Linked DNA regions of Homo sapiens: regions 1, 2, 3, 4 and 5 are each reported to be linked to region 6. Evidence: microRNA targets listed by miRTarBase, many of them from high-throughput screens and not tested one by one. Region 6 holds a microRNA gene; each other region holds the end of a gene's coding sequence.

Evidence for each region. Region 6 holds the annotated microRNA hsa-miR-3924 (AUAUGUAUAUGUGACUGCUACU, at 3,094-3,115, opposite strand). A microRNA usually pairs through its seed, bases 2 to 8, with sites in the 3' UTR of a target mRNA and lowers its output. Matches are read on the target gene's strand: a 7mer-m8 pairs with bases 2 to 8, a 7mer-A1 pairs with bases 2 to 7 and ends in A, and an 8mer does both.
Region 1: the mRNA of UBR3 is a reported target of hsa-miR-3924. Seed matches in the 3' UTR shown: 7mer-m8 at 2,266-2,272.
Region 2: the mRNA of OSBPL9 is a reported target of hsa-miR-3924. Seed matches in the 3' UTR shown: 7mer-m8 at 2,316-2,322.
Region 3: the mRNA of GNA13 is a reported target of hsa-miR-3924. Seed matches in the 3' UTR shown: 7mer-A1 at 2,414-2,420.
Region 4: miRTarBase lists PROX1 as a target of hsa-miR-3924. The part of its 3' UTR that is shown has no 7-base or 8-base seed match.
Region 5: the mRNA of HNRNPU is a reported target of hsa-miR-3924. Seed matches in the 3' UTR shown: 7mer-m8 at 4,142-4,148, 8mer at 2,946-2,953, 7mer-m8 at 2,788-2,794, 8mer at 1,386-1,393, 8mer at 859-866 and 8mer at 291-298.

The regions. Positions count from the first base shown.
Region 1 is chr2:170,080,317-170,086,104 of GRCh38, reverse strand. It overlaps UBR3 (ubiquitin protein ligase E3 component n-recognin 3), which reads right to left. Exons shown (of 39, transcript NM_172070.4): 38 at 5,421-5,560; 39 at 1,974-4,379. The coding sequence ends at 4,262. Among named protein-coding and RNA genes, the nearest start is that of MYO3B, 95 kb to the left of the region's middle.
Region 2 is chr1:51,785,199-51,790,525 of GRCh38, reverse strand. OSBPL9 (oxysterol binding protein like 9) reads right to left here. Exons shown (of 24, transcript NM_024586.6): 21 at 4,640-4,718; 22 at 3,909-4,000; 23 at 3,038-3,173; 24 at 1,307-2,811. The coding sequence ends at 2,737. It overlaps NRDC (nardilysin convertase), which reads left to right. Exons shown (of 31, transcript NM_001101662.2): 30 at 869-958; 31 at 1,093-1,316. The coding sequence ends at 1,290. Among named protein-coding and RNA genes, the nearest start is that of MIR761, 49 kb to the left of the region's middle. RefSeq lists silencers at 1,703-1,903, 3,383-3,583, 5,015-5,309.
Region 3 is chr17:65,010,265-65,016,052 of GRCh38, reverse strand. It overlaps GNA13 (G protein subunit alpha 13), which reads left to right. Exons shown (of 4, transcript NM_006572.6): 4 at 1,224-5,788. The coding sequence ends at 1,796. Among named protein-coding and RNA genes, the nearest start is that of GNA13, 44 kb to the left of the region's middle.
Region 4 is chr1:214,035,681-214,038,680 of GRCh38, forward strand. PROX1 (prospero homeobox 1) reads left to right here. Exons shown (of 5, transcript NM_001270616.2): 5 at 1-3,000. The coding sequence ends at 154. Among named protein-coding and RNA genes, the nearest start is that of PROX1, 49 kb to the left of the region's middle.
Region 5 is chr1:244,850,281-244,856,068 of GRCh38, forward strand. HNRNPU (heterogeneous nuclear ribonucleoprotein U) reads right to left here. Exons shown (of 14, transcript NM_031844.3): 11 at 5,624-5,788; 12 at 5,144-5,328; 13 at 4,693-4,764; 14 at 17-4,223. The coding sequence ends at 4,170. It overlaps SNORA100 (small nucleolar RNA, H/ACA box 100), which reads right to left and starts at 3,937; the gene lies at 3,807-3,937.
Region 6 is chr10:57,301,396-57,307,183 of GRCh38, forward strand. It overlaps MIR3924 (microRNA 3924), which reads right to left and starts at 3,164; the gene lies at 3,084-3,164.

The DNA.
Region 1 (5,788 bases), not on the chromosome of region 6:
TCACCTACACAATATTTGGGAATCATCATCTCTCCCCACTGGAAGCCTCCTCATACACCCAAGTCTGGTTTAGAGGGTCCATCTATAGCACCTTCTACTCTACTTCTCTTCTCCTCCAAACACACATACCATTTGTAACACTAATCATACAGAAAGCGAGGTGAGAGAAGGGACTATCTGACTTCTTTTCCACTGTATTTCCAGTATTTATCATAGTGCTTGGTACACAGGAGGAGTGCAATAAATATTTACTAAATAAACGAATTTAAATGCTTCAACATTGCAGCAATTTTGCGTAAGTTCAAAAGAAAACTTTGAAAGAGTTCATTGTCTTACTAAATCTTATTGTGTCTTCCAATCCTACGCCCCTACAAATCCAACATGAACCCCACACTCATTTCAACCAGCTCCCCTAATTCTCTTAACTTATATTGCATCCTTTACATTTTGTATCCGTGTCTCCAAACCCCAGTTAATTTAGCAGTCTAATTTCTATCCTTCAGGTCCTAAGCTGCTAAACTCAGGGGCTCCACAAAGTTACAGAATCTTTCTAACTGGCTCCATTAAACTTAGGTTTTCTAACCCCACTTGGCTGTCAATATAACTTCAGTGGTGCTTCCCCTTATTTCTGGCCTGTTCTCTCTCCTAGCATATGTCTAAGCTTTTGCCACTTATCTCAAGCCCCCAGATATGCTAGGCCTGTTCACTCTCGGTACATGATCCTGCTCCTTTGTCACCAAGAGAAGAGGGAATCAGACACAAATCCTCTTATTTTGCTCTAGACTTTCTTTCCTTTTCTCTTGTATCTTTTCCCCTCAACCTGAAGCTTTTATCTGTGCTCTTGACCCCACTCCTTCTGGTCTGCTCTTGGGCTCTACCTCACTGATTTTGGTACTGTCACATCTTACATTAATTTAACTTGCACAAAGGCAGCTCTACACAAGGTTCCATTGTGTGTTTTCACTGTGTTGCATCAGCTGAAGTCACATTCATTCCACTACTTGTACTGTACACTAAGATGGCAGGTCATAGCTCTTCCATACCTGATATGCCTAATTAATAGGGAGCTTGAAGTGTCATAAATAGAGAAGTGATCATGTTGCTGTTTTGCCCACTCCAGCTCATCCCTGTTGAACTAAGCAGTGCTTGATATCATCTAGCCAGATCATAAGGCAGAGGAAAGAACTATGTGCTGTGAATGGGACTGAGACACAGTCATAAGTCATCTGCTCTCCCACAATCATCAATCATCAGGCATCCTCACCAATGAATTCATCTTCTCTCGGTGATTTGATTCTAGTGGTTAAAACCATGCTTTGTGTCCCCCCCAACCCCAAATATGATCTCAAATATAAGCCATCAACAGCCATTTGAGAGTCAGCAATTAGAATCCTGGAGATAATACAGAGAGTCTTAGACCACATCTCTTCCCATATTGCTGTTTCCTCTAAGCCTTCAGTGCTTTTAGTCAGCATCTTTTTCTAAGTCACAGAAATCAGTAAATATCGGAATACATAAAACAGAGAAAGGTCTGAAGAGAAATGGACTGCTAGCTGATAAATGGCTGGTGAGCTTCAGGATGGAGAGGTAGGGGTGAGGACTGTCAATTCAAACAAGAATGCAAACCACTCAAAATAAACATTCTCATAAAGCACTAAACATTTCTGAAGTCTGGCTGGGAACTTTCAGAAAAGAACAGAGATCACAATTCCTCAGATCTACATACCCATTTCCTTCTCCCCCTACCAAACACACACACTTAGCAAAGAATGTGCATTGATTATGAGACAAGGACTGAAGAAGCAAGAACTCACTCTGCAAATAAAAGAAAAAAAGCAAAGCAAACCCTTTACACTTACTCCACCCTAAAGCAACTACTAATTATGTTGTGCTTTGATCTTTTCAGCCATGTTCACTCACATATATTACTGTCAATATCTTTGGGGGAAAAAAAAACATGTAAGCAGTAAACATTTTAAGGACCTTTCACAAACCAAATGACAGCAGGTTTTTATTAACATATCTTACAATGTTGATTATTCCTAGTTTTGTAATTTCTGCTTAATTATAAAGATCAATTTAGCTTCTACAGTAATGTACTGTATTTAAATGATCATTCATACAAGATATCACACCAGTACATTTTTTTGAATAATATACACACATCACTCTAACTTGGACCTGTTATTTTTAAAAGTGGGTTTATAAATGGGACTTATAAAAGTTATGGGGAAAAATTAAAGTTCTAGTTTAGCAGCATGCATGTATGTATTCAAGTACAATTTTCAACCAAGTGCTTTTTTAAAATTTACTGGTGACTAATTCACCAATATCAAAATAAACACTATCAAACACCCAAATTTTAAAGTTAAGGCTAATATTTTCACTTCACATCCATATGCACAACCATAAAACATTCCATTTTAAATAAGTAGTAATCAAAGTCTGAATACATTATACCATGTATATATAGCATCAGAGTTTCAAACTGTAGAATTATTCAAGTTCATGAATCCTGTAACAGTATTTACTAGAGATGTCAATTAGCATTTTGCTCTTCAACCACACTTACAAATGGTCTGGTATTCATAACGATCAATGCAAAAAGTATGACAGGCTGAACTTATGATACAGTATTTAAAAAAGTAGCAATGTGTTGGAAAGGACAGCTATTTAGTCGAACAGAATCATTGACTCTTACAGAAAGTTATCTTAATATTTTGGAAATGTATATAAAAATAGCAAGCTATTTCCATGTATTTTATTGTAGAACGATAGGTAATCTTTTGACTTTCTGAATACATTTGAATATGTACTGCTCTGCTTTCCATATTTTAATGCAAGGCCATGATTTAATGTCCATTTTTATACTCTTGTAATGTCATGTCATTACAAAAATTTTTTAGAACATGGATCTGACATATTTTATCATTAGATTTGTTTAGTTTATTTTTACATGTAAAAATGTAATTTTATATAACAAGCCATGGAAGTCCAAAGTACCAGGGATTGCTTGATAGCACTATATATTAAATAATCATTCAATTACTGAATCATTTAGGAAAAAAAATCTTTGTAGCAATATGTCACATGCTTTTCAGTAATCTTCCTTCTCATAGAGTGGGTTTTAGCTCAATCATTCCCATTTTTACTGATTTTTAAACCCTGCAAACATAAATTGTTTTTCACAGCAGTTTCTAAGAAGAATGCAGAAGCGTGGCTCATTCATGAGGGTCATCACCACTGCGCCTTTTTTTTCCTTTTAGGAAACCGAGCAGAAATAGTAGTGATTACACTGCACAAATACAATATAGCTGAACCTCTTGAGCTGAAAGGAAGTTCCAAAATTTATGGTTCATTTCTGGGGAAGTCTGAGCATTTCTAATACAATCATATAAACAAAACCTTGTTTGGTAATAAAAGGTGGGCATGCACGGAATCAACATCTGCCCAGTGTATGTTCTTAAACCTCTTGATTTCATAGTAAGATTTGTTATTACCTCTAGTAATTCATCCAACTGAAATGGCAAATTTTGATTTTTAAGGACCCCCCAACCACACATATGCCCCCCAAAATGTACTGTATTATATTAACAGCAGCTATCTACTTATTTTACAGCTATTTCAATTATTTACCTGGGGAGAAGATTTATGAAATTCCTGAGAATGAATTCAGTTTTCAGCAAAGCTTTAAACTTTTAACAGATTCCTCACAATAAGAAAAAATTTTAAAGTTCTACTATTAGACCAACTTTTACTATACAGTATTTCACATAAATCATGTTTTACATTTTTTTCTAATTACATACAGAAAAATTCTCCAATCAACACAAGAATGGCAGAGGAAAAAAGATGCATTATGCTTGGCAGATGCAAATTAAAACACACAGACAGAAAGAAGCAGTAAAATGTCAAATAAATCACACCCACTCTAAGTATCAATGAATAGCTGATACGCATTGTTGGGAGAATCATTTCTGAATGAGTTTGTGAACAAGTTGTGCTTCTTATTAATTGTGCACTTAAAAAATGACCACTAAAGAATAATTTAACTTGTTATTAATGTTCTCCAGATATTAAAAAAAAAAAATTATACCATTAACGTGATTACCAAGCACCTAATTTTGGAAAGGCTTCATAATGTATGTTTTCTTTTTCTCCCTCAGCAAAAGTGTTAATCCCCCAAATTAAGTTAAAGCTTATTGTTGAAAAATAAATTCGTAGCGAAAATGATGATACGATGCAATGCTGAGGTGGAGAGTCACAGCCCATTGTAATGTGGACCCCATCTTTTATTGATGTGATCAAAAGTATGAGAAATCCACTGTTGCTCAAGAACTTTGTATCTTTCCTTACAAATGTAGAGAGGTTTGCCTCGCCTAGAACAAAAAGAAAAAAAAAGTATTAATATCATACACGGAAGATTTCACATGCATTTCTTTCTTCTTTTTTTTCTGAGACAGTCTCTCGCAGTGCAACCTCCGCCTCCTGGGTTCAAGCAATTCTCCTGTCTCAGCCTCTCGAGTAGCTGGGATTACAGGTGCTCACCACCATGCCTGCCTCCTTTTTTTATTTTTTTATTTTTTATTTACTTATTTCTTTTTTGAGACGGAGTCCCACTCTGTCACCCAGGCTGGAGTGCAGTGGCACGATCTTGGCTCACTGCAAGCTCCGCCTCCCGAGTTCATGCCATTCTCCTGCCTCAGCCTCTAGAGTAGCTGGGACTATAGGGGCCCGCCACCACACCCGGCTAATTTTTTGTATTTTTAGTAGAGACGGGGTTTCACCATATTGGCCAGCCTGGTCTCGAACTCCTGACCTCAAGTGATCCACCCACCTCGGCCTCCCAAAGTGCTGGGATTACAGGCGTGAGCCACCACACCTACCACATTTCTTTTTTTACTAGATTCTTTTTTGAGACAGTCTTTCTCTGTTGCCCAGGTTGGTGTGCAGTGGCACGATCACAGCTCACTGCAGCCGCCACCTGCTGGGCTCAAGCGATCCTTCCACCTCCTCCCGAGTTGCTGGGACCACAGGTGTATGACCACCACACCTGGCTTATTTATTTTTATTTTTTTGTAGAGATGAGGTCTCACTATGTTGTCCAGGCTGGTCTCAAACTCCTGGGCTCAAGCAATCCTGCTTCAGCCTCCCAAAGTGCTGAGATTACAGGTGTGAGCCACTGGGCCTGGCCAACGGATTCTTTGTGGCAAAAACCTCACATGGTAATTTGGTGTATTTCATGTTTCCTCAACGTATTGATAGGGACAATAGCTCAAAAACTAGAAATAGCTCTAAATTAATGACTGTCAGAATTTCTTAATATTAAAAAAATTGTAATTACAAAGCCAGGAATAGCATATTGGTTTTCACTGACCAAATTTCAATAAAACACCTGGATATATCCATGAACATCTAACCTAAGATCCCGGTCTTCCTCTCCATGAGCATCCAAATACACGGAACCCCAGAGGCAGAAGCGGTGACCTCGAATGATGATAATTACCGATGCATTGATCAAAAGGAAAATACCTGTTCCTGCACCACAGTTCTGAGAGTGCTAAAAAATTAAAAATATATTAATGAACTTCATAATCAAATAGGCTTTATAATAAAATCAAGAATATATTAATGCCTTCTAAATAATACAGTGATTTAAAAATAGTAAGATTTCATTTAAGTTAAACTTATAACTCCATTCCTAACACTTTATTATTAATACATTAGGAGGTATTTGGGTAAGGAATATCTAGTAAAGCAATTAAGAGCCAACCTAATTCAGAGTCTA
Region 2 (5,327 bases), not on the chromosome of region 6:
GGTTTTCAGAGTAAGACAGCTCAAACTGGTCAAGGTTCCTGATTCTACAGGCATCACAGGTCTGTGCACACCAGCATTGTGTGGAAGAGAAACTCGAAACACTAGTCCTGGCCTGATTACTCGCTCACTTCCTGAGTTTTCAGACTGGCCTCTCTAGCACCTTAGGTGGCCACGTGAGCTGGGTGCTAATCCTTACCACACCACCACCAATTTCAATCAGAGCAGCTCTATTTTTATGCTATATATTGAGGTCTACAAGATTTTGTGGAGAAAAAGAGTTTTGCCGTTTAAAGAAAATTGAGGACTCTTTGTCTTTACGGAGTTCATTATTCCAAGTGCATGTGTTTTGACAACTTCTATTCCAAAGTAGTAAAACCTATGAAAAAGATCTGGATCTTGTACTCCAGTGTGACTTTGGTTAATACATAGCCCCTACATGGTGAATTACCATAGGACATCATTGCTCTGTGATGTAAAGAGGTTATTTAGTAAGAGGCTTCATCTTAACACATTTTAGTTTTCTTAATAGAAGCAAGGTAGATTTCCTCAAGCCGTGGTATGCAGCTACCATGTAATTGGGAGGTGACACTAAGGGGATGTGGGTGTTGGGCTCAGTGTATGGTATTTAGCTGTAATTATAGCATCTGCTAACCTCTCTTGCCATTGTAGATGATTGGTATAAAATGTGAAGGCATGCCAGAGAGCTTCATCATCGTTTTGGTCTGGAAGGTTAGGGGTAACCTGAGAATAGGAAGAATAAAATGAGGTCTTCAGATGCTAAGCAGGTCCAGGGACATCTGCCTGGGGGTTAGGTTTAAGAGCTATCTTTCTTCTTGAATTTCTTTCCTATCTTCCCTTCCCTTGTAAGATTGAAGCACTGAAGTCATTCTCAAAATCAGACCTGGTCAACTGGTTCAAGGCCCATAGAGGGCCAGGAAGTAAAATGCTCAGCGTTCATGTGAGTATGTTTAACTAACTCCATCCATTCTAGGGTTGTCATTTACTGAGTGAGTTTGGGTGGTTATCATCAGAACTCTTAAACCCCTAAATCTGGTCAGCATATTTTTCACTTTTGTCTTTGTCCTCTTTCAGGTTGTTGGATATGGGAAGTATGAACTGGAAGAGGATGGTACCCCTTCTAGTGAGGATTCAAATTCTTCTTGTGAAGTGATGCAGCTGACCTACCTGCCAACCTCTCCTCTGCTGGCAGATTGTATCATCCCCATTACTGATATCAGGGCTTTCACAACAACACTCAACCTTCTCCCCTACCATAAAATAGTCAAATAAATAAACTGCAGTCACGTTGGCCTGAAGCAATGTGTATTTTAAAATGTGTTTGTTTGTATTTTATGGAGTTAGTTATACTACTGCCTTAGGGCTTCCATTGAAGTTTTGCACTGGCATCATAGCATTTGATTTACTTTTTATCCTTTGTTGAGACTAATAAACCCAGGGTTACTGTAGGAGCTGGCAAAGGAAAATTAGCAGAATGGGCCAAGCGAGACCAGAAAGCCTGCAGCAGCACTTTGAGAAGCCCTGGCCTGTGTCCTCTCAGACTGAGAATCTACTTCTTGAAAGGCCTTACGTAACCAGTATATTGAATAACTAACTAAATGCTAGGTACTAATACCTGTTTTTTTAATGTATTTTTAAATAAAAAAGATGATAGATAGATAGATAGATATAGTTCTGTATTTCCCTTCAGAATGAGCCATCTGCTGCTGTGGCATTCATTTTATTCTATCTATCTATCTATTTTTGTTCACTGTGGGGTGGGGATCTATAAATACACACTCTTCCCAAACCCTCTAAGGCAATAAAACATTTTTGGATAAAATGTTGGTAGGCAGCCCTACATGTGCAATATGAGTTAAGTGAAGATTCTGGGGAATTGCCTGGCAGGGGCTAAAGACAGAACATACAATCTGACAGAGGAAAAGAATGGATCCTCCATTATTTCAAGTGTCTTTCTTTGAAAAGCTAGCTCTTGTATTCAAGGTTGCCAAATAATTGGCTTCCAAGTTTAACCATAAAAGATAATAAAAGATGCACATTTTTAAAAAAAAGGTTGGAAAAATTACTTTATGAAGCCTTAAGCACTAAGAATAATTAATTAAACTGTAATCCAGGATTAGATACAATTTAATAATAGTTCAATTCCAAAATAAAAGTTATTGTAGGTAAGACCATGAAATTTCCTAACACTTGATTTTAATACATTGCGCTAATTTTCTAAAACAACTCAGAGGAACCCATATTTACAGTAGGCAGAATATTTATGAAAAAAATCTGGCATCAGGTATATTTATATATATGTATGTGTGTGTATACGTATGTGTGTGTATATATATGTGTGTGTGTGTGTGTATCCCGAGATTATATGAACTAAGAAACAAGTTGTGTATCTTAACAGCAGTACTAGAGCGCAGAGTTTCAGACTTGGATTTATAAATGCTTTCAACGTGTGGTGTTTGGAAAAGGAGAAGACATCATCTGATTTTCAAAACCTGAAGTTTTTCTCAGGACTGAAGTCAAAATCGTAACTGCCACAGAGGGAAAAGGGAAGCTTTTCCCCTTAATTGTTCATCTGCGTCAGAAAGTCCAGTATCCCTGAGATAGGAACCACTGTAATTAGAAGATTGGAATGAACAGGTTTCTCCCAAAGGAAGATTGTTTGTTGCTGAATTATGCCTACTGCCCTGATCATCAGGTATAAACTTTGCATCTTCCAACCTAATGCTTGGCAGCACCAAGACGTTTCAGTAATGGTTCATCATAAACCCAGCATTCTCCATCTTCATGAAATAACTGTAAGACAAAGAGGAAGAATTTAGTTACATATTTGCTTTGTACTTCTGTAATATACTTACTATTTCATATCTGCTCCCCACCCCGCCATTAGACTGAAATGAGTTTCAAGTAGGGACCAGCGATCATCTTGTTTATAAACAGTGTTTGGCACATCACTTCTTCAACATTCACTGAAATAAATTAGGAGGAACAGCACTTAGGAGGGTGGGGCAGGCAAGCTTACCCTTGTCTCCCACTGAATTTCCTTCTCCTTCCTTTCTCGGGCTTCTGCTCTTTGTCTTTCTTCAAGCCTGTGCTTTGCTTCAGTTGCTGCATCAATGTCTCTGATTTTTAAGTTGAAAGTGACATCCTTCCAAAGGCTAAAACAAAGAGGTAAGAGGAGCTGCCAATGTTGAGAATGAAAGCCTGCAGCCATCCTGAATATAGTATAATACAAGTCAAATGGCTTTAAGTGCTGTAGGTCACAGACTAAATCTCCTTACGCTGGCACCAGGGCACTGGAGTAAGGAACAGACATATGGGCTCAGAAGACTCCACTGCTAGTTGTCAAAGAAGGAAATAAGGGCTGCCTGATAGTATGATAAGGTCAACAGAAGAAAAAGAATAGTGGAAGCTGAGACCTGGGATTCTACTTCTGGCTCTATGTCTAACTTACTGTGCAACTCTGGGTCAATCAGTTTACCTCTGTAGGGCTTGAGTGTCCCTTAATATATACCTGTAAGTGTTAGAGGAACTGAGAAGTTCCATTTCAGAAAAACTCCCTTGGATTTAACAATATGATGGAGAAAATAGTATGAATGGAGAGAATAAGGGTCAAGAAGTAAATTACAGAGGCTTTAAAGTTAGTTAAGATGTGGCTTCCTCTCAAGGCCTTTATTCTCATTTCAGGAAAGAAGGTAAAGAGAAGTTAGCTGACTGAGCCATCCATGGTCACAAAGGTAGTAAGTGGTAGTTCTGACATACGAACCCAGGAATTCAAACTTGGTCTATACTATTATGCTCTGCCCTACTGTCTCTCAAACCCAGCCCTGTGCCTACGCCTAGGCAAAGTTTAAGCACTGCAGCAATAGTTCCACTTAACAATGTCGGCTTACCTGCGGGATTCATACTCGTTCTGATCTTCCAACTTCCTCACTTTCTTCTTGATTATAGGCAACTTCTTGGTATCTACAAAGACTGTATTTTCCTAGAAAACAATAGAGGTGGATGGGAACTAGACCCATAAACCCCTAACCTAATGTTAGATGCATTGTAGTGCTTTTGACACTTCAAATTCTCTAGGTCCAAAATGCAGTTAACTGGCTCCTCCTGTTAATTTCATAACATCTTTCCTCTGTTTAAGAACACTGAGTGGGCAGTAGTACAGAGTGCAAGTTCTTTGAAGGAAAGGTCTATCTTAACTCATTTTGGTATCTCTGGTGCCAGGCAGTCAGTAAATTTTATTATACAAAATCTTCAACTGTGTGTGTATGGAAACACACAGTTTAGTGCTTCATTTTATAAACATACGCCACATACCTAACATTTACTGGGTTCTTACTATGTGCCAGGCATTGTTTTACATATATTATTCTCAAGTGTTTTGAGAGCAGAGAGAAAAGTAAAAATGATTATAATTACCTATACTGCTGGGAGAAGGTGGGGGAAGGAAAGAAAAAGCTTGCCCTGAAGAGATGACATACACTGGAGCTGTCCTAAAGTTCCAGCTCTAATATACTGTAGAAGGAAATGCATTATGAAGGAAGTACTAATGAAGGAAGCCAGAAAAAGGGATAGAGTACAATCTAATGTAGCCTAAAACAAGTGGCAAAATAGAGGATCTTACCCCTGTTGCATATTTTGCATACATCACACCATTCCATTCCCCTTCAATTGAGCAAAAAGACTTCTTGTCATTTGGAGAACTGAACAGAAAAGGAAATACTTGTGTTAGTCTCAAGTTGAAAATTCTACCAAAGAATCTGCTCAGTGTGGCCCAACTACAGAGTAGAGCACAGAAGAGCAACTGTGAAGTTTTTGATGAAAGCATCTTAACAGAACTGGACTCCCCAGGGCTAACTATAAGAATGAGGGCCTTCAACAGGACGCTTATGAACTTGAGATCCCAAGAATGGTGGGTTTGGGCAAGAACGTCCTATTCTGGGTGCAAGGACCATAACAGAGTTGGCAAATTCCCTATCCTCAAGCTGTTCACAGCGTAGTGGAGAGAGACGTAACCACCATTGAAATTCTAGGTGGTAAGTGCTGTGGTGAGCTTACATGGGCACTGGGGGTCAGGGAAGGCTTTGCTTAAGAATATAATGCAGGCTTTCATCCTCAGGTTGAAAGGGACCTCTGTGCCAGATGGTGTGAATACTTTCCCTGAGCAAGGATCCATTCTGCAAAAGCCGTAACAGACCTCTACTTGGACACACAACTATGGAATGTGAGAAGATAAGCAACACAGCAAAGGCCTGGTTAGGAAGGGCAAGGCATAAACAGGATTGAAAGAGGCCAGAAAAGGGAGACATGAC
Region 3 (5,788 bases), not on the chromosome of region 6:
CTGTTTGTTCAGGGTCTTAGAGTTCACTGACCAAGAGTGCAGAGAAGAGCTCATTTGATCCTTGCAACAACCCTCCCTCCCAGGTATATAGACCAAGTGTGATCACCTCCATTTCACAGACAGAGGTGCTGACACTCAGAGTAAGTGACTAGTTTGAGTTCTTGGGTCAATAAGTAAGAAATTAATTATAGTAGAGAAAGGATTTTTCACACATGTAATATAGCAGCAATGAAAACATAGAAGTTTTAAGTCATGAGTGGGGTTGCACAGTAAAAGAACTTTTAGAATAGGTTAGAGAGAGGTGGGCAGAACTTGGAACTGGGAAGTGATCCTTGTGAATTGGCACTGGAATCAGATCCCATTGCCTTTTTTTTTTTTTTTTTTTTTTTTAAGACAAAGTCTTGCTCTGTCACCCAGGCTGGAGTGCAGTGGCATGATCTCAGCTCACTGCAAGCTCCACCTCCTGGGTTCACACCACTCTCCTGCCTCAGCCTCCCAAGTAGCTGGGACTACAGGCGCCCGCCACCACACCTGGCTAATTTTTTTGTATTTTTAGTAGAGATGGGGTTTCACTGTGTTAGCCAGGATGGTCTCAATCTCCTGACCTCGTGATCTGCCCGTCTCGGCCTCCCAAAGTGCTGGAATTACAAGCGTGAGCCATCGCGCCCAGCCCCCATTGCTTTTAATAGAGGAGCAAGGAGCAGTGTGGAGAAGGTAGATACGCAGACAGGAAGATCACTCTGGCTAGAACCAAGAGTGGCTGATAGTGGGGAGTAAGATTGCAGGTGGATATATAGCAGTGAGGGTGGGTAAGAACAATTGATAAGACTTCAGCTTAAATTTTGAGTAGTATTGCAGGGATGAAAACAAGTAGATTCTGGCCATTTGTAGTAAATTTTGAACCCGTCCTGCTAACATTTTAATGTATCTTGGCTTTTGTTGTGGGGAGCACAAGTGGGTCTTGCTATATTGCCCAGGATATTCTCAAACTCCTGGCTTCGCAAGCGATCCTCCTGCCTCAGCCTCCCAAAGTGCTGGGATTATAGGCATGACCCACCATGTCTGACCAGTCTTGGCATTTTATAATAAGCATAATCTATCTGAAAATGTCACTTAAAAGATCATTTTGTTTGCATATCTATTCACTAGTCCAGTTAGTAGTCCATTAAAAATTCGCATTACTTCGGGATTAATAGGTATAAAACAAGTTTTTTCTTTTCCAGGATTATATTCCATCACAACAAGATATTCTGCTTGCCAGAAGACCCACCAAAGGCATCCATGAATACGACTTTGAAATAAAAAATGTTCCTTTCAAAATGGTTGATGTAGGTGGTCAGAGATCAGAAAGGAAACGTTGGTTTGAATGTTTCGACAGTGTGACATCAATACTTTTCCTTGTTTCCTCAAGTGAATTTGACCAGGTGCTTATGGAAGATCGACTGACCAATCGCCTTACAGAGTCTCTGAACATTTTTGAAACAATCGTCAATAACCGGGTTTTCAGCAATGTCTCCATAATTCTGTTCTTAAACAAGACAGACTTGCTTGAGGAGAAGGTGCAAATTGTGAGCATCAAAGACTATTTCCTAGAATTTGAAGGGGATCCCCACTGCTTAAGAGACGTCCAAAAATTCCTGGTGGAATGTTTCCGGAACAAACGCCGGGACCAGCAACAGAAGCCCTTATACCACCACTTCACCACTGCTATCAACACGGAGAACATCCGCCTTGTTTTCCGTGACGTGAAGGATACTATTCTGCATGACAACCTCAAGCAGCTTATGCTACAGTGATGTACAAAAGACTTGCTGTTTTAATATCTTTTTGTGTTTTTGATGTTTTCTGTTTGTTTTGTTTTTTAAAATAGCAGTTTACAACCAGAATTAGAACAATCTTAATTCTACGTTTAACTTCTTGAAAATCTTAGTACTTTTTCTGCGGCCTTTGGTTTGTGGCTGAAAGCTGTTGAGTGACTCATCGCCAAGATTTGCTGTAATGCAGGCTTTGATCTGTTTCACCATGGCTTCTATTCAAGTCCAGTTAAAACCTCCCAGCTGACCTCAGACTAGGCATATTTCAGGCTTTAAATTATTCTACTTTCCAAACTGAATTCTCCTGCAGTGCCAAGTATCAAAGGTGTCCTTAAATACTTGTAGGGATGAGGTTAGGAATATTCAGTTCCAAAACAAGATATCTTCTGTCCGCCTTACATATAGCAGTGACACTTGTTGCCTAACTTTATGGTGACCTCCTATTTTGTAAGGGCTGTTAGAAGTTCTATCTAAGAAATGGCATTCTGTAGGTTTATAGAAGGTTTAGCCTTCATATTTTAATTGCTTGTATACACAACAGCTGTTTTGCTTTTAGATTTCTGTGTTTCTGAAGGTAATGTTCTTCCTGTTTTCAAGTTTACATAAGGATCTTTGGTCTGATGCTGATGAAGAGTTCACAGGTGGTATGGGAGAGCAAAAGGCAAGCTAATGCTGTTTACCGTGTTTTGGTCAAACGTAACGAGTGAAATAGAATTTGCCTTTCTCATATTTAATTATCATGTAGTTTAATGTACCATATGTGAAACATTCTGGCCATAGCAGCAACTAAAAACTGCAAGCAACTTGGTAACAGAACTTTCTAAATAAACTTAACCTGTTCCAGAATGTCATGTATTTGACTTTTAAGCCCTATCTCAGTTGGTCAGTAAAGACCAATCCTTACTGTAGGAAATCATTGTTGTATCATCACAAACATCTATCTTTTGCTGTCCTGTCCAGTCCCATCAACTCCACACTGTGCCATTTGTGGCATCGTTTTGTTTATTTGGAGTTTGCTAAGGGCAGTATTTTTCTGTCAAGACTATTCAAGAAGGCATTATTTGAGATTCCTGTTCATTCTTGGTGTGTCTCTAACAGATACAGTATGTATACATTTGTATAATTGTTGTTGTTGAAAGTCCAGCTTTTTTGAGGTATATTTTAAATGTTTTAAGGATGCTTCTAAGGATCAGTAGTAATTTTTTTAGTTCGCACCTAAAGATGATTACATTGACCTCCCCCGACTGCTTACCAAATTAAAATGTGTCCACGAAGTAGCTTTGTGATCGCAGATACATTCATAGTGAACTCATCAGAATGGCTGGTTTGCAGTACTGAAATACTATCTTCTAGGCTGTATGTAGTGCTACAATTAGAGAAACAGAAGTCCAAGGCTGGCGACAGCTTGAAAAGTCTGACAGCTTTTCTACTTTTCCTGAAAATTTTAAGACTGTGATATCTGTCATTTTACTGTATAGCTGACTGTGTACTCAGGTATTTTATTGGTCCTTGAAAGATTGGTCGTTATGGATCACCCAGCCTTTCCAAGTCAGTGGCTGTTGTTCTGTCTTGCTGTCTGATACGAGAGTGGGGCTTTTCAGTGAACTAACCAGGGATTGTTCTTGACATACCTGACTTTTCTCACATTTGAACTTCCACTATCATTGTATCCATATAACTTCTAGCATTTTCATGCCATGGTAATCCATGAGCTACACATACGTAGCCCGGCACCGTGATGCAAGTTCATGGTATCGTGCATGTTCGTGGTATCATGGTATCATTCATGCGTGTTTGAATAGTTCTACATCTAGTGCTTCTTGCCAAAAAGAATACATTGTTTAAATTCACAAAATTAGCATAATTGCAGTGCTAATGAATATCGGAATATGTGCACAGTAACATTTGGACTATTCATTGGAGAGTTTACCCATACATTTAGCAAATTGAATGGCCAAAACATTTGACTCCAGTGAGGGCTCAAGTTAGATCCCTATAGAAAGAGGACACTTCATCTTACTTAAGTCATAGTTAAGATCTGTGATACGAACCATAGATATTGCCTGACAAAGCAGAAATCACCAAGTTTCCCCCTTTTGAATTACCACCAAGAAGTGTTGAAACACCAAATAGATATCATGTTATTTTGGGCATTTGCAGTTTTCTTCCCTGCTGCATGTAATGTCTCAGAATCAACATTCTTTTAAAATCTAGACTATATTTTGAGGCAATGAATTACTTATATTCAACTTAGGCTTGTTTTGACATTCAGTAGAACTTTAAGTTCAATCTAAAGGCTTCAGTCCACATTTTTTTATACGTTGTATTTTAAAAACGTTTGAAAGGAGTCTTACACCTGTATCATGAAAACTGAATCCTTTTGAAATACCACTATATGAAGAGAGAGATGAAATTTAGTGAACAGAATTGAAAAGGTGCTCATAATTTCACTATGCAAACTTACCCCAGTCTCTAAAAAAGTAATTTAGATTTAAAGTTCTTTGATGTATTTGATTTTCTAAATCTTTATGGTTATGATTTGGAATAAAATGTGCCTAATCCTGTGTTACATTCTGTTCTTAAATCTGAATGCCTTCTCATTTAATTCTGAGGAAATATCACACAAGTGTCTTCATTGACCTTGAAGAAATGTATATACAGTTGCCTTATAAAACAACATAAATTTAGACCATAACTTTTATAGAGAAAGGGTTTTGTCAAATGTTTTCTGAAAATCTGAGTAATTCAAAGCATGCCTCTGCCCCTTTAATATTTTTAATAACCTGCATTGTTGCTGTCTGCCAAATATTAAATTGAAATCTTCATTTCAATTTTATTATCTGGAAAGGGCACTGGATTGCTCTGCAACCAAAGAAAGCAATATGGAATGAAAAAACTCATTCACTTTTGTCTTATTTTCTTTTAAGGTGTATTGGCATGTAATTTGCATAGAGAAGGTCCTCTGGTTAGTCTCTCAAATTGAGGCTGTTTAGGGAAATCCTTATTCAGTTGGTGGCAGTGGTTGGTTTAAAGTAGAAGGAAATAAGATCGCCTTAATACCAGAAATGATTAGAAGTGCTGATTTAGATTCAACAAATACCATATGTCCTTATCATTTTTTGTAAGAAGAAATTGGTTAAGTCCTAACTTTCAATGTGTACCCAAATACTTGTATTTATGCTTTTGATAAAATGTATTTTCAGCATTAATACACATCCGATTATGCCTTATTTATATATGAAGAATAAAGTTACCATGTTACACTGTTATGTCCTAAAATTCAAATCACTATTTGAGAAACCCTCAAATTGGTGCTTTCATTATATAATGATACATTTAGACAAAACCCCAAACTAAGCCATTTGAAACAAGATTCTCTCCATTGCAGTTTGTAGCAATGTTATTTCTGTGTATGTCATGAGAAGGCTAAATATCAGTGTTAATTTCTTGTTTGAATCCGTGAAATCATGCCTGTAAAGCCCAAACATTTGTAACAAACTCCCTAATAAATTTAGAGAAAGTCACTCTGTTACCATTTCATTTATTTTAGTTTTATTTGAGAAATTAAGACCAGAAGTTTTGCTCATGTCTTTTTCACTTGGAAATCTGACTTAGTACCTAGTTAATTTGTCTCTCTCCCATCATTTTAAGGCGTTCGCTTCTGTTAATCACAGATGATCTGTCCTTGTGTTGTGCTGCTTGACTAAAAGCACTGTTTTGTTTTGTTTTGTTTTGTTTTTTAATGATAGGATACAGGGTGGCTTTTCAGTCTAGTAAACATGAGGAGGGGAGAGATTGTGGGTGGGTGTGGGTGTGTCCGCATGTCCCAAATACAGCACATGCCCATTTTTTTATGGTACGAGGTTAGGGCTTATTAATAAATGTATACTAGATCTTGAAGTGTAAGTCTAAGTCTGAACATTTTAAACAAGTTGGACTTTATGGCTTTTTCAAGTTCCATCAAGTAGATACTA
Region 4 (3,000 bases), not on the chromosome of region 6:
CACATTACGGGAGTTTTTCAATGCCATTATCGCAGGCAAAGATGTTGATCCTTCCTGGAAGAAGGCCATATACAAGGTCATCTGCAAGCTGGATAGTGAAGTCCCTGAGATTTTCAAATCCCCGAACTGCCTACAAGAGCTGCTTCATGAGTAGAAATTTCAACAACTCTTTTTGAATGTATGAAGAGTAGCAGTCCCCTTTGGATGTCCAAGTTATATGTGTCTAGATTTTGATTTCATATATATGTGTATGGGAGGCATGGATATGTTATGAAATCAGCTGGTAATTCCTCCTCATCACGTTTCTCTCATTTTCTTTTGTTTTCCATTGCAAGGGGATGGTTGTTTTCTTTCTGCCTTTAGTTTGCTTTTGCCCAAGGCCCTTAACATTTGGACACTTAAAATAGGGTTAATTTTCAGGGAAAAAGAATGTTGGCGTGTGTAAAGTCTCTATTAGCAATGAAGGGAATTTGTTAACGATGCATCCACTTGATTGATGACTTATTGCAAATGGCGGTTGGCTGAGGAAAACCCATGACACAGCACAACTCTACAGACAGTGATGTGTCTCTTGTTTCTACTGCTAAGAAGGTCTGAAAATTTAATGAAACCACTTCATACATTTAAGTATTTTGTTTGGTTTGAACTCAATCAGTAGCTTTTCCTTACATGTTTAAAAATAATTCCAATGACAGATGAGCAGCTCACTTTTCCAAAGTACCCCAAAAGGCCAAATTAAAAAAGAAAAATAATCACTCTCAAGCCTTGTCTAAGAAAAGAGGCAAACTCTGAAAGTCGTACCAGTTTCTTCTGGAGGCAAAGCAATTTTGCACAAAACCAGCTCTCTCAAGATGAGACTAGAAATTCATACCTGGTCTTGTAGCCACCTCTCTAAACTTGAAAATAGGTTCTTCTTCATAAGTGAGCTTACATCATTCTTCATAAAGAAAAATCCTATAACTTGTTATCATTTTTGCTTCAGATACTAAAAGGCACTAAGTTTCCAATTTACGCTGCTCAACTTTGTTTATATGCTTAAAAGGATTCTGTTTACTTAACAATTTTTTCCCCTAAAATACTATTTTCTGAATACTTCCTTCCAGTAAGGAATAAAGGAAAGCCCAACTTGGCCATAAAATTCTTGCCTACACTAGAAGTTTGTTGACAGCCATTAGCTGACTTGATCGTCATCTCCTAAGAGGAACACATATATTTTCACAAGCAATTCCACACTATCCTGATGGGTATGCAAAGTGGTGACAGTCTAACTCAGTGTTTCTTCATTTTAGGTATAACATTTTAAAGCAATTGATAATGCCTCTTCCAATTCAGAAGCTAGTATTGACCAAAATGTGAGAAGAGTGTATAGCATAGGAAAATTTGGGGTTAACCCAAAAGACACAATTCCAGCACACATAAGAAAGCTAGCTGCTATTTTATGCTTTCTTCCATGGTTCTCCTCTTTTTTCCCTTTTATTTTTCCCTGTTTTTCAATGATGTACAGTGTTCCCTACTTGCATTGAAAAAACTCGTATGGCATTCACACTTTTTTTCTTAGGTGGGTTTTTGTGTCCAGATGCAGTAAGAATTCATTGTTCATCCTAAAACTGTTTTCCAGACCCTTCCTTCCCCTTAGGTAATTTGATATACACCTCCTAAAATGACACAGTAACAAATCTGGTATTTAGAACATATAGAACATAAATGCCATTTTTTAATTCAACTTTAATAAGAATTACATTTGACTTTGGAGAATACAGGTCTTGACCCATGTGACTGACTAGCTGACCCGATCGCTGTAATTTAACGTCATTTATAAATTCTGCTGATGGACAGGAATGTATGAACTCAATTATTGTCAGCACAAAGCCTTAAAACCTGCTGACTTTAAATTAAATGGTGCAGTCCTATGATGCCCTGCACCATCCAGGGGACTAACAGGGCCTCGCAGTGTAGACAGAGGGTGCAGCCACACGGGCGGGGGCACCAGCCACCTCACTCTGCACCCGCGGCCTCACACATCTCCCAGCTCACACTCTACTAATGCACAGAGTCATTAGATCCAATTTGTTATTTTTCTCACTTGCTTTAAAAAAAAGCAGTTTGGATAATCATGACATTGGAATAAAGTGGGAAGGAAAAATTCCATCAGCACAAAATAGGGAAGTAATCCCAACTTGTAGTCACAGTTTTCTGACTGGCTTTGTTTTAAAAGAGGATGGCAGTCCTTGTTCGTGTCAGTGTGCCACTGGGTTTTTGCTGTTCCGTGTAATTCATATCAACTTTGTGTTGCCATTTGCAAGGTAAAAGGCAAAGCTGTAGTGTATTCACCTATGTAGACAGATTGCTAGATATCTTTTTGATCTGGGGCGAGTTCAATATTGATTCCAGACTTATTTGGATTTTTTTAGTATTATTTTCCCCTCCCTTTCTAATTTAAATAGACAAATTAAGCAAAAGTGTGTGTTCACAACCAAATGTTGATGCCCTTATCTACTGATAATATCCTCTCAATGTTCACTGAGGCATAGAAATTATTTCAGAGTAGAAATTGCAGCATGAGGATAAACTCACCTCTTTGTTCTGAAAATAGAACTTTATCACTATGCTTTCCGGTGGTTTTCCCTTTTACAATCGAAATCTTGTGCCTCCCAAGTGCATTGGAAAATGACAAAAGCCTGTCTCTCCAAATTCCTATTTAACAGTTTGATTTTTTTTTTTTAATCACCATCTTTCAAATCTTAGCTCAACTCTCACCAAGTGAAAATTGGCTACTTGGGAGAAAGTTAACTTTCTATGGTGGGATGGTGAAGGATGAGGGACAGTTTACATAGGAAAAGAAAAAAAAAAGTCTAAAGTCCATGTTGAAAAACCACACTACCACTTATTTTCTGCTAACCCTAAATTATTTTTGCGTATACGCTTGAGGTTATAGTCTGTGCCTAGACCTAAAATGCACCAGCGGGGGGGATTTTAAAAAATCCTTCAAAATACCAGTTT
Region 5 (5,788 bases), not on the chromosome of region 6:
GTCACTCCAACATGAGTTAGCTGGACAAAGTACTTTTAATGCTTATTTTACAAATATGTACCTGTGGTGCTAATACTAGGCAAAGAAAACAGGACGATTCAAGAGCAGCCTATGTAACTACCAACTCAAGCACTAACACTAGCTAGATCACCTTCATGCTTTAAAATTTAAAGTTATGGAGTAGCTGTGCCCACACCCCCCCCCAAAAAAAAGCTTTAATAAAGGCACTGCAGCGTTAACTAAGTTTTAGGGTAAATTTAGGCAATTAACAATTCGAAGAGACTTGTGGTTTATGTATTAGTAATTCAAATTACTGTTTTAGAGATCTCAGGTAGTTAACCAATTCTTGCTCAAAGCACTAATGTTCAGTCCCTCACCATTTATGCTGGGTATGAGTCCCAATGCATGGGTATTGCAACCTATTGTCAGGCCTTAACATGTATGTGTTTGCTTTTATTATTACTAAAATGTTAAAACTTAAACCCAATTATTCACCAAACTCTGAACACCTCAACCTCAGAGCTCCAGAATTAGGAATGAATGACAAAGTTTAGACTCTAATCATTTTAAGAATGTTAGGTGGGAAGAAATGGCTTCAGATGCAGTATTGTGTTCATCTTTCCAGGGGAACATCTCAAATGGGTATTCTGAAGCAGGTTGAGAAGTAGATAAAATTCTCTGCTACAAGTTCCATCCACTTTTTTTTTTTCAAGAGACCAGGTCTCACTATGTTGCCCAGGATGGTCTCAAACTCCTGAGCTCAAGTGATCCTCCCGCCTTGGCCTCCCAAAGTGCTAGGATTACAGGCGTGAGCCACCACACCCAGCCAAGTTCCATCCACTTTTGAAAACAAGACATTTATGTATAGGAAGAGAATTATGGAAACACTTTGTAAAACATCCATTTATTATATCCAATGCTAAACACTACCACTTGGACTCTAAGATATGTTTATGCCTCTCTGTTTATTCTAGTTTTTTAAAAATCAAATATACAAGATCTACAATTATTTATATCCAAGATGTCTACACCACTGCCTAAGAAGCTATTAAAATATTTGTATTTGTGCAATGGAACCCATTATTCACATGGTCCTAGAATAAAAAGTCAATTTATATTGTGAATAAATTTATCAAAAAACATGTCATCCAATTCCCACAAATGAGACATTTTAAATACAGAATACACTCTGTTCATGAATATAAAATCCCCAGGTGAAAGTCCCTTAAAACACTATTATGGTTATGTTTCCTAGAATAATTTTATAACTTTTTCAGAGAATTCCTTTAAACTTGTTAAAATACCTTGTTGCTAGTGCTCAGAACATCTAGGTTCAGTCTTTATTTTTAAGACAGTATCTATCCTAGGCAAATGAGAGCTTGTTTTTATGTATTTAAGAGTTTCCTCTTGTCATTTCAATGTCAAATTGATTTGACTCAATTTCATGATTTCATCTCGCTCAAGGCCATCAACCGGTCAGAGCCAGAGCCCTTCAAAGGCTGTATGTGAGTATATGAGGGAAAACTTTCCACATAATTTTACATCATTTCTATCTCATAGCAGTTTTAGTTTTCTCATAGCTATCTCATAGCAGTTTTAGTTTTCTCAAATTCTATGCTGTTTTTGTACTACTGCAGCTGACCAATCCAAAGCCAGTTTACACTCAGCATGTGTTATTCTACTTTAAAATATAACCTTAGTGAAAGCACCCTTCAAATCAACAGCAATCTCACAGTGAGTTTCCTCTGGGTAGTCAGGATTTGTCCAGAACTACATCCTTTTCAGATGTTCAGAGTTTTGCTTGCCATTAGGGAGGCAAGGGAAGGATGAGCAATAAATCAGGTTTCTCGTTCGTATCTTACTTCTTACCTAATTTTCTCCCTGTTGCTTATTTGGTACATTCCCTTCTCTGAATTCCTTAAACACTTTATAAGGTTATTTCTGCCATACAAGTGTAGACAATTGTATTAATTCTAGTCTTGACTAAAGATTTTAACATTTTTCTGGGTGCCATTTTTATCTATTCTCTCTCCCCCCAAATTCTCTGGGCTAAACAGGCATGATAGTCTACCTAGTGTTACTTGACCATTACTTTCCCACTGCAATTATAAAATGAATTCCTTAATAAGCAATTTTAAACTAGAAGATATATCCAAAACTTTTTAAAGGCACAAAGGACAACTTTAGGACACAACACTGATTAGCATCAAAACCTGAAACTGTTCCTCTAGTAAGTCTATGCAATCCTAATAATGTATACTGAAGAGTAGTAGCTCAGGCCAGTGGTTCTTAGCATTACTTGCTAAAAAAGATAAAAATCCATGACACTATCTTCAACTGTTAAATATCTTATGTTAACTAAGGATTTGCCTGTTCCAAAAATGTCTCAACTGAACCTATACATCACCTAAACTCCAGCTTATAGCAAGAAAATTCCTTAGAAGTATGAATTCATATTTATGATCTGATTTTAAAGGGCTAAAACAAAATTCTAAGCAATCAGAAATATAGCAAACCTAAACTTACCAAAGCAACCTAAAAACACCAAGGAAACGCTAGACTGAAGTCAAATTTTAGTTCTACAGTTTGACTCCTGATTCCTCACTTCACATTGGTGAGGGGAAGATTAAAGTGTTCTGTGCAAACCCAATATAATTACAATTAGGGGATCTAATGTTATTACATAGCTACAGTCAAGTTAGCAGTGTTGTGTAGCAGTGACATCAATGACTGGCTTGCATGATGGCTTCTAAAAGCATCTGATCCCAGAGTTTCATGTATCATATATATGTATATAAAATAATCAGTTGAGGACAGCATTAGCATTCTGTAAAGATGATAAACTCAGTGTTAACTTCTCCCAGCCAGTACCTTTTCCCCTCATTAAATATGTTAAAAGTTGTCTGGGGGGGAGGGGAAGGGAAGAATTCAACTTTACTTCATAATTATGTATCAATTGTCAGTATACATTTAAGTTTTTAAAACCTAAATGTTCTATGCAGAGTAAAGAATAAGCTGTCCAGAAAGCACACACTTAATAAATTTCTCCTCTTGGGAGTTATATAAAGGGATTTTGAACCTTGATGGCGAGAATCCCAAAACAAGAGTAAAATGAATTCTTTTTATTGCAAACAAACGTCTAAATTAATTTCTCCACCCACTTTCTTTAGAAAGAAAAAGAAATCAGCAGGCTAAGGAGATACCCATTCAAGAACTGACATGATTAAAAATTAAGATATAAATGGGTGACTCACAATTTCATTAGCTTACAAAGATGGTGGAGTTAACTACTACAAGCACACTAGTTATACAGTATTTTGTGGGAGAAGGGCATACAGACATGGCTAACTTCATATAGATCCCATTAGACAACTGGATTTACAACAAGTTTTTTTAATAAGAAATGGGCAAAGCCAGCTTTCTTTTCAGAATCAAAATGCAGAACAAATGGAAAAATTATGGTATTAACCTTCACAAGTTTGAGCCTCCACAAATAATGCAACCAAGTTTTACATTTTTAACAGCCCTTCTACATACACTCCATCTTCTCTATCTTAGTTCCAAGTTTTAGTTTTCAATCCCAATTATACCAATTCCATTGTTATTTTAAGAAAAAACCTTCCCAGTTATTGTCAGAAACTATGATTTAGCTTACCCCCTCCACTACCCAGCAAACTACAGAGAGGATGGAGTGTAATATGAGCAGTACAGAGTCTTAATGCAATTCATGAGGACCACTTAGTCCTTACATGAATCTGGTTGCTAACATTTCTATTATATTGTGACAATGACTCCCGACTGTTATTCTCTGTGAGAAATGGGGGGAGTAAATTCTTAATAAAAGACACCAGGTACAAAGCAACATTTTACTTCTGTTGTGATAAAAAAAAAAAAAAGTCACATTTTACAGATAAAATGTAGAACCCTGAAATACTGACACATTCTCTTATCGTGCACAATGCTGAGGTTCTCTTACGATTCACTTTTAAACTGCAATTAAAAATGTACAAAAAAGAAAAGAAAAAAAATCAACCCACAAAGCTTCTAAAAAAGGAACCCGCAGGCACTTCCTCTTGTGGAATGTTTAAAAAGTTAGCCTACTAAAGAAAACAGTCGACTTCTTGTGAAGGTTTTGGAGAAATATGTATCAGTTCGTTTTATTTGGGTATTCAATAATATCCTTGGTGATAATGCTGACTCCATGGCTTCTGACCCCAGAATTGCTGTAAGAGAAAATTTTGTTTTTAAAGAAAAAACATCAATAAGCCACTCAAACTGTTTTTAGGAAATGACAATGAATCTAATTCAGAGTAATTTGCTGGAAACAAATTTATACCTGTCATACCTCTGATTTCTACCAAACCAGATTTAGTTTTAATATCCCATAATTATCAATACACATTACAAAACGAAACATCATGACTTTGTTAGTTTACACAATTAAAGCTAGCAGTAAAAGAACTGTATATATTAAATAATATTACTTTATTAAAAAAATTTAACTTATAGCAATCTTCAACCTATTTTGCCTTCAAAAGGTAGATTATGGCTACTACTGCAAGACGATTCACACTTTACCCTATTAACACTTATAAACACTTCAATCCCTGAACAAGATCTTTTTCAAGACTGATAAATCTTAGGAACTCAAAATACAATTAATGTACATAAAGCACATAAGAAATTACTTACACCCTGCTGCCACTGGTTGTAGCCCTGAGATTGATTTTTGTAGCCACGATTGTTTCCTCGTCCTCTGAAGTTCTACAAAAAGGAAATACTCTCTAAGAGCTCTGAGCCCAATTGCTTGTTAGGTTTGTGGGGGTGAGAGAGAGGAGCAGAAATGGACAGGTTGCTAGCCCCTAATCTTAGGTAGCAAGCAATACACAAATTCTGGATACCCTCTGCTGGTTTCTTATGTTTTAATTTTTTATTCATTATGAGAAATGCATCTGACTTGTTTAGTACACCTGAAAAAACTCAAAAGTAAGTAGACTCATTTCACCATTACTAGTTCAATTTTCCTTATGTCAATGCCTATCATGTTCCTTACGGATTACTAAGACACCCCAACATAAAGCTCACACCTTTCCAGACTAAGCTACAGTTATCAATCATGCTTCCAGGGATCTTGAATCATTACCTGGTTGTAGTTCCCTCTGTTGGGCATTCCACCTCTGTTGTAGTTCCCTCTGTTTGAGTAACTACCACGGCCAGGAAAAACAGGGGCACGAGGGTATGGATAGCCGATTCCACCACTTCCTCCACCGCCACCACCTCTCTGTGGCATGTTGCCCCTCCTATTATATCCGCCACGATTCCCAGGGGCTAAAAGACAAGAGCTGTTTTAGTTTCATTGTATATTGTACCCTACTTATACAGAAGACTTAGGATTCCTCTAGATTGTTCCTTTTTCTCCAAAAATAATTGTTTAAAGACAAAAGAAATGTTTAATTCTAACCATTAACATAACCTAGGTGTATTTAATATCAAATCACATGAATACTTTAGTTACTGTGACAGTATACCATTAATGAGGAAGAAACTTCAGCTACATCCAAACTATAAAATTATCACTTGTTTCGATCCTGAACTAAATACAGAACACTCAAAATTAACTTGCCTCCTCCTCTGAAATTTCCACCACGCATATTGAATCCTCCACGTCCTCTATGGCCACCACCTCTGTTAAACTGGTTCTTGCCACTCTTATTTTTATTGCTTTTCTTTGAGCCAGTGTTCTGTTTCTTTTCTGGTGGAAGAGCCTTTTTGCTTTCTTCCTTATATT
Region 6 (5,788 bases):
GAGTGCAGTGGAGCTATCTTGGCTCACTGCAACCTCCGCCTCCTGGGTGCAAGAGATTCTCCTGCCACAGCCTCCCAAGCAGCTGGGATTACAGGCACCCGCCAACACGTCTAGCTAATGTTCGTATTTTTAGTAGAGACAGGGTTTCATCGTGTTAGCCAAGATGGTCTCAATCTCTTGACCTCATGATCCGCCCACCTCAGCCTCCCAAAGTGCTGGGAGTACAGGCATGAGCCACCATGTCCCGCCCATAACATTCTTGAAAAAACAAAATTATAGAAATTGAGAACAGATTAATGGTTGTCAGGGTTTATGGAGGAAGTGAAAGTGAGAGAGAAGTAAGTGTGGCTACAAAGAACATTATGAATGGAAATGTGATGGAAATATTCTGTACATTGAATGTAACAATATCAATATCCTGGTTGTCATCATTGGAGGAAACCCAGTCGATTATACCCCACATCTCTCTGTATTATTTCTTATACCTACATGTGAATCTACAGTCATTTTAAAGTAAAATATGTGATTCAAAAGAAAAAAAAAGGTAATGAGTTGAAATTGCATGCTTTGGCCAATTAACACTAAATTATAAGTCCTATTTGATAAAATATGATTCAATTAGTAAATAAAGCACAGGTAAACTTTAGCAGACTTTTGGCAAAATGTGAAATTTGAACTTTACACATTTCGTTTGACCAGAGAAATATTTTGAAAAAGAAGACTGCATTAGTTTATTATGGCTGCCATAACAAAATACCACAAACTGGATGCCTGAAACAATAGAAATTAATTTTTCGTAGTTCTGCAGGTTAGAAGTCCCAGAACAAGATGTCAGAATTTTTTATTTCTACCGAGGCCTCTCACCTTGGTTTGCAGATGGTGTACTCACGTGGCCCTCTCTTCATCTCTGTGTTGTCTACCCTAATCTCTTCTTATAAAAACACCAGTCATATTAGATTAGGGCACACCTATATGACCTAATTTTACCTTAATTACCTGTTTAACAGCCCTGTATCCAAATACAGACATATTCTGAATTATTACGGGTTAGTGCTACAACATATGAATTTTGAGGGGGACATAATTCAGCTCATAACAGAGACCAACATGTAGAAATTAAGGAATTCCAAATAAAAATGTAGGTATCTACGTTATTTTTACAGCCTGCAATTAGTTCTAGCAACAATTGGTAGTACCTGAGAAATAAATCCCTGCTTCAAAAGCACATGCACACGTGCACTCAAACATCTGTAAAATTCATGCCACACACACACACACACACACACACACACACACACACACACACACTGTTGTCTTCACACCTTTATTAAATGACTGGCTTTTGTGGCATTGAGCTTGTGATGTCAGGAATAAGGAATCACATAGTTTCTGATGGAGTAGGGAGGGAAAAGTCAAGAGAAAGACTGAAAGGAGATGTGTGAGAGCTCCATAAACAAACAGCCTTCTTTATAATTTTGTGAGCAATACTCTTCAATTGTTTGGAAGCAGAAACTAGCTGGTTTGCATTTGCAGAGAGCAGACAATTTCTCCCTCAAAAGATTTTAAAAACGTTGTATCAAAAATGAATTAGTCTGTTATTTCAATCTTTCTTTTTTCTTCTTTGTTTGATGAGGAGTTGACTTCTTTTTACCAGGCTCTGTCCTCTCAATTTAGTAAGTCTACTTATGGCATATAGTGCACTGAACTGGTTTATTGAGAGCATTTCTATTATCATAAATAAATGGTCATTCTTAATTCAAACCATTAAACCAGGTTGGCAACCATGTCATTGTAGTTTGTGCATAAAAATATTTTGCTAGGTGAGGACAGCCAATTCTTTATTAGCATGAAAGCTACAAAAGAAAAAAAAAAGATAAGTGACAGGTATTTCCTTAAATGCAAAGCAAAAGTACAAATTCTACACAGTACAAAATGGAGAAGGGATATGAGATGTGAAGAAGCAAACGATAATTTTATTTTACACTGGAGCATAGAGGGAGCTTATTGACAAAGGCCTGGGGTTGTATTTGCATCCTTGCAGTACACTATTTAGTCGTGAAGATTTACTTAGTGGAAAGTCACTAACCAGCTTATTAAAAGTCAAACAATACCTGGAAAAAAATTCATGTATGCCATTGCAATTACATAAGGCCATTTTATTTATAAAATAAAAAATTTATAAAGCAAATAATGAATCAATATAAAAATAAAAGTTTATATTTGCACCGTGTTTTTATTTCTGTTATACCAGTTGATTTTAGTCTAATAAATTTATGAGGAAAATTTAAACAAAAATGTGTTTCCCAAGAACGTTTATATTTGCCTCTACCAAGTGGCCTCTGTGTTTCCCAGTAGGGATGCTGACTCAGCAAAATCAGCATTCATGACTCTAGTTGTCCAATATAGGGAGACAAAATGGCCAATTTAAGTCATTGTGCTTTGTCTTTCTCTCACAGACAGACAGACACACACGCACACACAAACACATGCACACAAAGAAATGATAAGGTTCAATGAAATACTCCATACATTTCCTTCAATTTTACTTTATAATTTTATAATTCTAAGGGTTTTTTTTAATTAAATGATCTTGTCCATATAGGGCACTGGTAAATAAAGTAAAGTCTAGAGAAATCACAAATGCAAGTTGAACTAGAATTTTGTTTAGAGATTTCTAGGGTAATAAGCAGATGAAGTAAATCTTTTCTTGCATCTGTGGCCCCCAAAAGAAATAACTTGTCACTCTAAATTATCTTTGAGACAAAACAAATTTGTCAGCTATAGTTGTCAGAAAACTGTAAAGTGATGTACTTTAAAATAAAAATTTTAACACCTTTTTCCTCCCTAATCTCCAGATATATTGGAAGTCATGAAATTAAAATGCAGTGTTAGGATAATATTTGCCTTTTTGGTAAATATAATTTATAATCTTAAATTCAAGTGTTAAATATTGAGTCTTTCCTTGGCTTTAGGATTAAACAATAGGTGATGCCAAAATATGAGAAAAGCATCTTCCAAGGTACAATTGCATATCTGTTACATACCTGCATACATAGAAAAGAGAAAGATAGGGGTAAGAGAATTAAACAAAAAAGTAGCAGTCACATATACATATCTGTATATATGACATAGATCTGCATATTTGACTACTACTTTTTCATTTATTTTAATTTAAATACATATTTATGTACACATATGTGCGCATACATGTATCTCTCTGTGTGTATCTATATATTTGTTTTGGAAAATATCAGGTTCAATCAGTTTAACCAGGTTTACTTTTCACAGGACATTTCAGAGTATTTAAAAACTATACTGCATTAAAAATCTCCAGGAAATGATGTATGTGAAGAGCTCCAGAGTGTTGTTTCTCATAGAAAACTTTTTTCATAGAGAAGTTTTTTCATAGAAACATTTTTTTTTAATTTCCAATTTTTATTTTAAGCAGGGGCACATGTGCAGGATGTGCATGTTTGTCACATAGATAAACTTGTGCCAGGGTGGTTTGTTGCACAGATCATCCTGTCACCCAGGTATTAAGCCCAGCATCCATTAGCTACTCTTTCTGATCCTCTCCTTCCTCCCACCACTCACTCTCCAACAGGCTCCAATGTGTGTTGTTCCCTCCCATGTGTCCATGTGTTTTCATCATTTATTTCCCACTTACAAGTGAGAACATGCAATCTTTGGTTTTGTGTTCCTGCATTAGTTTGCTAAGGATAATGGCCTCTGCCTCCATCCATGTTCCTGTGAACTCCTCTCTAACTCATTCTATGAGGCCAGCATCATCTTGATACCAAAACCTGACAGAGATGCCATAAAAACAGAAACCTTTAAAGCCAATGTCCTTGATGAACATAGATACAAAAATCCTCAACAAAATACTGGCAAACTGAATCCAGCAGCACACCAAAAACCTTATGCACCACGATCAAATAGTCTTCATCCCCAGGATGCAAGGCTGATTCAACATACGCAAATCAATCATTGTGATTCATCACATAAACAGAACTAAAGACACAAACCACATTATAATATCAATAGACACAGAAACTTTTAAGATGTCAATCTTCCAGAGTCAGTGACTGTCTCTATTACTTGGGATTTGTAGTTAATTTGTTTCTATTCTTACTAATTTAGAAAACACAATTTCAAGTTCTTGCAAAACAAAACACCTGATGTTTTTCAATAATTTTGTTTGTACTATGATGACATGCAAGAAACAAAAAATAACAATTTTCAAAAACCCATTTAAATGCTTTCATTTGCTAGAGTTTACTTCTCTGGAAATTTCATCCTTCAAGACAAATGAGAACCAGAGAATAAAGAATAAAGTTCTCCAAGTAGTCAAATAAAATAACTACAAGCGACGTTTACAAAAAAAGTAATGGTTATACATAATTCTTAGGTGGGCCATTTAGACAAGGAAAAGTAACATCATATTTTAATCTCTTAACTCACAGACACGTAGAAATTGTCAGTTTTCTGGAAATGGAGGAATAAGAGAACTGTCTCAAGAAGATAGGTAGGTCCACTGACAACATTGTGAGGTGCCCTAAAGATAAAAAGAAGTAATACAAAGCTGTCCAAGAAAACATAAAAAATCAAAGTATAATATCTTGGACTAGTTAGGAGATAAATTACCCTCAGTGTTATCAAAGAACAATAATCAATATTGTAGATATGTTTATGATTAAAACTACATTGTCAAGTAAAAGTTGAAATTCATTTAAAACATTTTATAAACACAGGACAAGTTAGACAAGCATGGACTCTACATGGAAACCCAGGTCTAATTCACCTTAAACTCCTTCTAGATTTGACCATTAGACATTAATGACCTCTTAAAGCATCAACCTCCTCATCTGTAAAATATCCATAATAAAATATCACCAACATTGGAGTCCTGGAGAAGATTAATCATTCCTTGGTTCCTAGTGTGTGCTAATAGAAACTATTATGCCTTCTATTTCTGTTACAACTATTACCAGGGAAAAGTACACGGAAGTTTCATTAACAGATTTATAACATATTGTTAATAAGAACAAAATTCCCAAACTTTCTTTGTTGAAAAACAACTCATTCTCTCATTTACGCTGTGTGAATCACACGTGAACTCAAAATGTTTTTTTCTATTTTCTCACTCAACAACCAATAACATGCATAGGGGACTTTTGTGACCAAATATGTGTTTGTTTTTTTTTTCTCTCACACACCAAGCAAACAATCAATTCTGCAGTGGATAGAAGCTGAGTCTCCTCCAATTCAATTCTGGCACTATCTACCTAAAGACAGCATCAGATCTCACCAGTTGAAGGCTCAGTCCCCACGACCACCTCCTGCTCCACTTCAGGTATAAGTCATAAGTCTGGGCATCAAGAATATCTGACCAACCAGCTTCAAGTTGGGGTTGCCACAATACCCTCTTTGAGTTTGATTAAGTTGTTCAGCAACTCTCAGAACTCAGGGAAACATGTGCTTACATTTACCAGTTAATTATAAAGGATATTACAAAGAATACAGATAAAGAGATACACAGGATGAGGTACAGGGGAAGGGGTGCAAAGCTTCCATGCCCCCCTGGTCTCAGGAATCTCCCCGTGTTCAGCTATGTGGAAGCTCTCTGAATCCTGGTTTGGGGGTTTTTAGGGAGGCCTCATTATGTAGGCATGATTGATTAACCTATTGGCCATCGGTGATTAACTTAACCTTCAGCTCCTCTCCCTTCAGTCTCAATCCTTCCATCATACCTTGGTCTTCCCCATCCTGAAGTTGCCTATGAGCTGCC